Regions from separate parts of the Homo sapiens genome. Here all the other regions are reported to be linked to region 1. Evidence: microRNA targets listed by miRTarBase, many of them from high-throughput screens and not tested one by one. Region 1 holds a microRNA gene; each other region holds the end of a gene's coding sequence.

Region 1 (3,000 bases):
TGGAGAAGGGAACAAGATGAATAGAGGCATGAAAATTAGAGTGTGCTTTGTAAATAAGTGAACAAGAGTTTTCACATGTTGGTATTGTCTATGAGGAATAAAAGTCGGTTCAAATATACAGTGTATATATAGTGTCTCAAAATTTTATCATACTTTTAATAACTTGGGAAGGATAAGTGCTACAAACTGAAAAAAGTATATTTGAATAGTCAATCAATCAATAAGTACAAATTCCATTTGTACTTATTCAGTTTTGGGAATGCTTCACAATCACATTTACTTTTTTTTTTTTTGAGATGGAGTCTTGCTCTGCCACCCTGTCGCCCAGGCTGGAGTGCAGTGTCGCAATCTCGGCTCACTGCAACCTCCACCTCCCAGGTTCAAGTGATTCTCGTGCCTCAGCCTCCTGGGTAGCTGGGATTACAGGCACCCGCCACCATGCCTGGCTAATTTTTTTGTATTTTTACTAGAGATGGGGTTTCACCATGTTGGCCAAGATGGTCTCGAACTCTCAAACTCCTGGCCTCATGTGATCTCCCACCTCGGCCTCCCAAAGTGCTGGGATTACAAGTGTGAGCCACTGCACCTGGCCAACATTTTTAAATTTTAATTTTCTGTCGCAACAGTTTCTGGGTGACACTTAGACCAGTGGATTGGTAGCGAACCTTGTTATGCTTGGCCACTTTGGTCACCTAATCTGTCTTAATAGACTTGTTGGTAGGAGAGGAGTGGGTCACATCAGAACTGTTGTGTATGTGTTACTCTTTGGATGGTCTTAAAGCCAAGATAACAAATGCAGTCCTTTCAGGCACTGAGCAGCAACTGATGAAAGTTTTTACAAAGGTCAAAAATCAACTAGAACATAAGATGGTGGCTATGTTGAATTTTAATAAGATACATCAGTATTTTAAATAATTATACTTTAAATGCTGATTTGTTTTTGTTTTGAGATGGAATCTCTGTTGCTAGGCGGGAGTGCAGTGGCACGATCTCGGCTCACTGCAACCTTCACCTCCCGGGTTCAAGTGATTCTCCTGCCTCAGCCTCTTGAGTAGCTGGGATTACAGGCACACACCACCATGCCCAGCTAATTTTTGTATTTTTAGTAGAGACGGGGTTTCACCATGTTGGCCAGGGTGGTCTTGATCTCCTGGCCTTGTGATCCGCCCGCCTCGGCCTCCCAAAGTGCTAAGGCATGACCCACCGCGCCCAGTCTAAATGCTGATTTTTATAAGTTTATAGCATTTATACTTCTGGGGTTTTTTGTTTGTTTTTTGAGACAGGGTCTCAATCTGTCACCCAGACTGGAGTGCAGTGGCACAATCAGGGCTCACTGCAGCCTCGACCTCCTGGGCTCAAGCAGTCCTCCCATCTCAGCCCCCTGAGAAGCTAGGACTACAGGCTTATGCCACCGTGCCTGGCTAATATTGTTTTATTTTTAGTAGAGATGGGGTTTTGCCATATTGCCCAGGCTGGTCTCAAACTCCTGGACTCAAGCGATCTGCCTACCTCTGCCTCCCAACATGGTGGGATTACAGGCATGAGCCACTGCACCTGCCTTCTTCTGAGGTTATTAAAACTTAATTTGTACTAAGACTTCGAAGACACTTGATATAAATCTTGTCATATCAGCCCCCTGCTTAAGGTGCTTTGGTTGTGTCTCCATTTTCTTCATATGTAAAGGCCATACTACTTAACATAGCATACAAGCAAGACCCATCATGATCCAACTCTGGCTTACCTCTATGCTATAGATGTTTCCTTAATGATCCCACCCATGCCTATAGGCTCAGCTCATATTTCTGTGCTGATCGCTCTTAAGGTTGTTATCTTCAGCCCCAACTTCCCCATTGAGCTACAAACCTGAATCCTTGCTGCCTAGTGGACCTCACTTCAGGCATCACAAACTCAGCCCCATGCAGTGAGTCGGGGAGGAACTGGATTTGGAGCCAGAAGAACTGGTTCTAATATCTACTTCCCTGTGTAGAGTTGGGATTTGGGATTATATGAGTTAATATACACCAAAGAACTTTGTATTACTATAATAATAGTTTGCAAACATTGATTATTTTCTCAAAACTTTTTTCCTTTGTCTGTTACCACTTAGTTAATGACATTCAACCTTCACTAGGCTATAGGATCAGACTGATAGGATTCGTGTCTAACATGGATTACCAGTGAGTGATGACTGGCAAGTCAACCACTCTGTGCCTCATTTTCCTCATCTGTAAACGGAGGATAATAATACAATACTCCTCATAAGTTGTTAGGAAAATTACCCGAGTTAATACATGTAAAGCACTTAGTAACCGTTTCTAGCATGCAGTAAGCACTGAATCATTGTGAACTCATTAGGTCAGGATCCGAACCTATGTGTCATACCATGTAGTAATGTAGTTTACTGTGATGGTTCTGCCTCACTTAGGTGATTGTGATTTTCTAAAGGGCAGAGACCATGTCTAATGCATCTTTGTGTTCCTAGTGCCTCATTATTTGATACACAGTAGGTTTCAGTAAATGTTTATTAAACTGGTGGTAGGGTTATGGAAAGTAAATATACGTAGAATTTTTTATTCAATTTTTCTTACTTTGCTCTTTACAGGAAAAAGGTCACTGGTCAGAACAGCAAGAAGAAAGTAGCTCTTGAAGACAAAAGTTAAAAACAGACTTTAAAAATACTGTCCCAGAAATGTAATTTTATGATCCCAGCATGAATGTTATTTTCATGGAATACTTGAAGTCTTACAGTCACCTGTACCAAACATTTGAAATCAACTACAAGTACATGGGACTGGTGATAAATGATCCTAAACTATCAAGTCAGTTTCAATTTGTAGGTGCCTTTTTTTTTTCCTGTAGAGATGAGGGTCTTGCCATGTTGTCCAGGCTGGTCTTGAACTCCTGACCTCACACAATCCTCCTGCCTTAGCCTCCTGAGTAACTGAGATTACAGGCACAAGCTGCTGCACCCAGCTCTGTAGGTGACTTTTAAATGATTAT
Region 2 (3,000 bases), not on the chromosome of region 1:
GAATGGCATCAGAAATCTCAACCAGCACGCTTGGGAGGGGCTAGGGGAGGGTATTATTTTCCACCTGTCATTCTATGCTCAGCCACATTTCTGTTAAGGGCAGAATACAGACATCTTAAGTCATGCAAAAATCTCAAAATATTTACAACCATATTTACTTCCCATGTTCTCTTCCTCAGGAAGTTATTAAAGAATGTGCCACACCAAAAAAAAAAAAAAAGTAAAGAGAGAGAATAGCAAATTAATGGGGACATTTGGAGGAGAAAGGACATGTAACCATAACACACTGCTGGGCTTGGGAGTCAACAATCCTTAAGTGCTCCAGGTAATGTCAACACCTAATAGAAATGTACTAAATGATGTGATCTAGCTATACTGGAAAACCAAAGCACGGTATGGTAAGAGTGAAATCCTCCTCTACTGTGACAGCAAGCCAGTAGATGTTTCTAAATTAAAAAATAAAGTGTAAGCACGTTATGTAGAAATGCAAACATAAGAGAGTTGAAAGTGGTTACTTCTAAGCAGCGAGACTTAGGGGACTGCTAGTTCTTGTTAAAAGCCTTATTGTATTTCTTTTAATTTAAAAAAAATTTACAAGCAATGGGGTGGTTTGTCCTGCAGACTTCCACATCCATTTTCTATATCCAGCTTCTTCCATAGAAGCCTATACTCAAATGAGATTTTTTTTTCCTTTGCAAAATATCAGTTGACTGCCAACCTGAACCAAATGACTTTCAGGCATCTTGCCAGTAGATGTTTTAAACAATATTACAAGTTGTAATAGGTGAGAGAAGTATCTTGCAGAGGTTTTTCTGAACAAGGTCTAGACCCATAAAATGAAATGATTCACATTTGGGTTGGCTCTTCCCAGGCTCTTCGAGCATCTAATTTAGGCAAGGACTGCATGGTGCCCAGAGTTATAAACTATCACATAATCTTTATTATCTGTACCTTTGAGCTTTCATTGATGCCAGGGAGCTCATTAATTAGCTCATTTTCCATGGGGCTCTTGGCCTTCCAGATGGAATCACTCCAAGCTCCCAGCAGCTTTCTGGTTGGAAGGCTGAAATTCTTTCAGGAGGGGAGACAGACTATAATCAGACTGGTTTAGAGGCCAGATTTTGGCTGTCATCGACTCAGATGTGCTATGTAAATTCTTCTGGCCATGCTGGAATTCTGTAAACTTGAAACCCACTGCTTGAAATGAGCAAGTCCTTGGCTAGCAAAGAAAGAAACGTGATTCCTGGAGTAAGAGCGACGCTGGTATGTCAAATGACAAGCTGTTGCAGCTGTCAAGGGTATTTCAGAAGGAATTGGGGATGAGCTTGAAGGTGAGTAAGAATTCCTCATGGGAAAAATACAAGAACAAAACAAATGTCGATAGTTGGTCTAAACTTTTTGGTTTTGCTTGAATGTGGACATTTTAATCTAGTCATTTTATCTTTTTCTCAGGACATTGGTGTGCCCAGTGGAAGTTTCCTACAAGGGGTGACAGCTCTGGACAGGGCATCAGGTGCCTGTGTGCTCACTGCAAGTCTGCCCCTGGTCGGCTATATGATCTTGGTCAAGCTGCTCTGTCTCTCTGGGTCCAGCTAGACAAGATGCTCACTGAGTCCCCTCCTGACTCATTTGTGATTTTATAAGGGTTGCCTGGTACATGCTTTCTGAAGGGGAGAGCAAGGGGAGGAGGAACCAATGCAGAGACTCACCACGGACCTGAGTCTTGGCAGGGAGGAGAGAGCAGAGGGAGCCTGGGGCTGAGGAAGACTGGGGGCAGGGGTGCTAGAGATGCCTCTCTTCTTTCACAAACCTCCTGTGCTGGCCTGCTCCCGGAGTGCTGTCCAGAAAGCCTCTTCAAGAAACCCATTACAAGTGACCACAAAGAATGCCCGTTCCAAGACATGCATTCTGAGGGAGGTGTGCACCAAAGCTTTAGTGGGCAGGAAGCTACCCCACCACCCAGCTCCAGCACTGCTGGGAGCTGATTCCAGCCCAGCCACTCCTCATGGCTTTTATATGGCCCTGCTGGGCCCTGGCGATCTGGTTTGAAAATCATGGTTCTATCTCAATCCAATCAATGGAAAACTGAATTTCAAGTGTTATCTCCCCTCAAACAAAAAACAAAACAAAAAAACAACAAAAAAAACAGGGTGAAAAAGAGCACACAGTGGCTCTCAACACAGCTTTCACCTTCCTCCCTGGATTCTGCCATTCCTGGATGTGCTTACACAGAGCTGGCTGCTCGGATTTCCCCTAGTGAATGCAACCAGTTACCGGACTGCGACAGGTGCATGGACCCCAGCACCTTCTCTCAAACACCCACGCTTGGAGGAAAACGTGGCAGCTCTCTCCCCAGCTGGGGCTTGGCCTGGGGTGCCCACCCTCTTTCTCATTAAGCAGCCCTTCATCTGAGAGGTAAGAAACTCAAGTTCATCCAGCGTGTGAACCTGCAATGTGGGGTGTGCTAAGATCCAGGCGGGCTAATGATCACTAACAATGCTCCCTATCCAACCCAGCAAGGCACACAAGGACAAAACCCCACCTACGGATCCAGCTGCATGCCTGAGTTTTGAGTACACAGCCAAAGAAAAAAGCATGCTCAGGTTGTCCAGAAAAAAAAGGAAACCTGAAAAAAAAAAAAAAACCACAATAGCGAGAAAGGGGGTCTAAGTTTCCTCGGAGGTCCTCAACTGTCTGTAGAAGTGCCCCACCCAGAACCCAAAATAAAATGAAGTAACCCCGCCCCTGGTCAGGGTCCTGTCTTTTTTATTATCCAGACACACGTATCAGAGCCTGCTAACATCCAGTTGTGGGAAGAGCAGCAAGCAGTACACCAGGAGCCACAGGAAGAGAATAAAATACATCATATCCGGCTGCTGGACAAGCTGTGTCAGGGAGTCACTCTGCGGGCTGTGGCTCCCCAGTGACATGGCTTCTCCTGAGCTGTTGGCCTTCCTACAGAAGAAACACAGAGGAAACGCAGTTACCAAGCAGGTTCCC
Region 3 (3,000 bases), not on the chromosome of region 1:
CTGCTGAGTCTTGGTCCTGGTGTGGCTCCCGAGGGCGGGGTGGGGTGAATGGGCAGGGGCCATTTGAAGTCGAGGTATCTGAACATAGGGAGCCTTCTTTCCCCGTCACTAGATTGAAAGATAAAGGTTAATAGGCTCATTTTTTGATTGGAAGTTTACAGATCAAATAATAAATATGGAATACAAAGAGGCTTTATTTCCCTCGGCGCTAGGCTTCATTTGTGCCGATTAGATAACACCTGCTATCTGCCAGTCTGTCGGGGCAGATGTGTGGATCCCAGCTGACTTCTTCTGCACCCTGACCCTTAGCGCCCAGCGGGCATTTGAGCCTAGCAGATGTGGGAGAGTCAGGCAGGGGCTGCTTCCGAAGGAAAGGACAGGAAGGGCGGCTCAGGCGGTGCTGGGCTCAAAACACCCGCTTCCGTTCCTGTGGTGCAGCGCACATGCCATCCACGCCATGCCTGTCTGATCATTTTAAAAACCCAGCTTTGTCGTCTCGCTTCCTCTCTCCTCAACAGGAAGCAGCGAAGACGGAGAAAAGGACTAGGTGGCTGCCAACGCGCACGCTCGGGTCCGAGGCTGCTCCCCTGGAGCGGCGCCCCTGCGCCCTCAGCCCGAGCAGCGACATCCACTCGCCATTTGCTGACATGAGATTGGGAGGAAGAATCCAGAGGTGAAGAGGGAGACGGCTCTTAGCTGCGTTCAAGGCGGGGCCCTCGGGAGCCCAGGTGCAGAGCGAGGCCGTGTCCAGGAGCCGGCGTCCCTCAGTGCCCCGTGCACCCGCGGCCGCGGCCTCCCAGGCAGTGCTCATGCGCTGGCCGTCGGGGGAGGCAGGGGCACAGCCTCCATGTGCGCGCGCGTGTGGAGCTGTGTGCACCGCATGTGTGCTTTCCACAGGGGCGTCTCTGCGTCCACGCCTGCACATCCCGGCGCACGTGTGGGCACCACAGAGGACACGTGAGGGGAATGGTCACCAGTGAGCCATATTTATTATTTCTAGAGAAATCACGAACTGCTTTCTGTAATTGCACTGTGGATAAATGTTCCGAGAGTCTCCATTGTTGTACAGGATCTTCAGTTATTCGAGGGGAATGAGGCAGGTCAAGCCGATGCTAGCCACTAGTTTGATTTTTTTTCTGTTTTATAGTTTGCGCTGCATGGTACTTGTGAAGCTTAAATATTTTGAGTGTTCTACTGTGTCTAGGATTGTTGGGATTGTACATATGGTACTCTTTCATAAATGATAAATGATTCTGAATGTTAGTGTTTTATGTTCATATAGGAAATATTTTCATTGAGTCCAAAATACCACTGTTTTGTTGATGGACTTGAATGCATTTTTGTCTCTTCTTGATGAAGCGGCTTTGCCGCAGCAAATGAGGCTTCTCTCTGAGGAGCTGAGAGGTCTTGCAGCCTCTCCTTGTCATTCTCCCACCCCACATCCCATTTTTTAAAGCCCTTTTGGTAAAAACCAACAGGTTGTGGCCGCAGACCTCAGATGGACCCGGCCCATCCCTGGGGACGTGCTGGCGTGGCAGGTCCAGAGAGCTGCACCCTGCACGGGGCACCGCACCGCTTCCCTCCGCGCAGCTCTTCTGCCTGGTTTTCGGAGGCCAGGCTGCTGGGAAGCTTCCGTGTTCCTGTCAGTCCTTCCTTCAAGAAGCCGGGGAACTCAGGCAGACTCATCTCCGCAGAGCATACCAGCCGTGGGGGACCGTTCGACTTGATGATGTGTGCACACTTCAGGTGGTGGGGACTTGAGCTTTAAAAAAACCTCCACAGCCGAATCTTCTCCTCCGAGCCACTCCACGTCACGTCCAGCTGGGCCTGGCCAGTCTGTGGTTATCCATGTGGGATGAGATAACACCACATCCTGCAGCTGTGAAGGGGGATGGACAAGGGACGACGGCCGACGGCAGAGCATCAGCAGCCGACACATAGTTCGGGTCGGGGCCTTGGGTGGTCCTGCATGGCCCGGGACTCATCTCACGGACCCTCCGTTCTGCATTAAGCCCCAGGTTCTCTTCTGGCTTTGAAAGGGCCCGAGTGCTCCCAGTGTAGCTTCGTCACATCGTCACGAGCCCCTGTGGTCATGGGCGACCTCACACCTCCCTCCCTGAGTTCTGCTCTGACATAAGGAAGTCCTCGGTGGCTGGTGCAGCGCGGCTGTGCTGTGCTGGGGAGGCAGCCGTTCCTTCGGGGGTCCTTGGGCCTGCAGTCCCCTCATACTCACCCTTCACCCAACATATTTTCCGGTGCTGATATGTTTCCAGACTCCAGCGCAACCTGGGGTGCTCTCCAGACCCGTGCAGGGGCCGCCTGGGGTACACGGAAGGAAGTTGAGTCCTAGTGCAAAATGCAGGCGGACGTTGCCAGAGAGTGCGCAGCAAATGACCTTCATTGCCAGTTCCACCCTACTCCTCTCATTTTTTATACTAAGCAATAACTTTCCAAAGCAAGAAGTTCAGGATGGAGAGAGTCCCCTCCTGTGTAGGCATGGGGTGGATGCGGTGCCCACCTGGGCTATGTGGGGAGCACCACTGTCTCGGGATGCGCGAATTTTTTTTTTTTTTTTAATTAACAGGGCATTAGAAGATGATTTTGCCAAAATTGTCATGACTCTGAATTCTTGCTGTGGGGACTTCCTGAGTTTTCTCAGTTTTTACATCTAAGATTAGTCTTGGCTGAAGAGAAATGAGACGTGATTATACTACTTTTTCAATTGCAGGTTTAAGGAGTTCAGATTTAATGACCAAAGTCATACAGATCATGGAATCTGTCGTCGTCTTATACAGTGTCAGCCTCGAGTACATTTATTAACCTTTTGGGGCTGTCAGTTTTCCACTAGGATTAAGATTTTGGCCGGGCGCGGTGGCTCACGCCTGCAATCCCAACACATTGGGGGGTCGAGGCGGACGGATCACTTTGAGCCCAGGAGTTCAAGACCAGCCTGGGCAACATGGCGAAACCTCGTCTCTACTAAAAATACAAAATATATAT

The links. Region 1 holds the annotated microRNA hsa-miR-378j (ACUGGAUUUGGAGCCAGAA, at 1,937-1,955, shown strand). A microRNA usually pairs through its seed, bases 2 to 8, with sites in the 3' UTR of a target mRNA and lowers its output. Matches are read on the target gene's strand: a 7mer-m8 pairs with bases 2 to 8, a 7mer-A1 pairs with bases 2 to 7 and ends in A, and an 8mer does both.
Region 2: miRTarBase lists CLMN as a target of hsa-miR-378j. Seed matches in the 3' UTR shown: 7mer-m8 at 2,199-2,205.
Region 3: the mRNA of LMTK2 is a reported target of hsa-miR-378j. Seed matches in the 3' UTR shown: 8mer at 665-672.

What each region holds. Positions count from the first base shown.
Region 1 is chr17:37,613,956-37,616,955 of GRCh38, reverse strand. MIR378J (microRNA 378j) reads left to right here and starts at 1,917; the gene lies at 1,917-2,025. DDX52 (DExD-box helicase 52) reads left to right here. Exons shown (of 15, transcript NM_007010.5): 15 at 2,603-3,000. The coding sequence ends at 2,660.
Region 2 is chr14:95,188,778-95,191,777 of GRCh38, forward strand. It overlaps CLMN (calmin), which reads right to left. Exons shown (of 13, transcript NM_024734.4): 13 at 1-2,955. The coding sequence ends at 2,787. Among named protein-coding and RNA genes, the nearest start is that of DICER1-AS1, 33 kb to the left of the region's middle.
Region 3 is chr7:98,204,946-98,207,945 of GRCh38, forward strand. LMTK2 (lemur tyrosine kinase 2) reads left to right here. Exons shown (of 14, transcript NM_014916.4): 14 at 519-3,000. The coding sequence ends at 547. Among named protein-coding and RNA genes, the nearest start is that of BHLHA15, 5.0 kb to the right of the region's middle.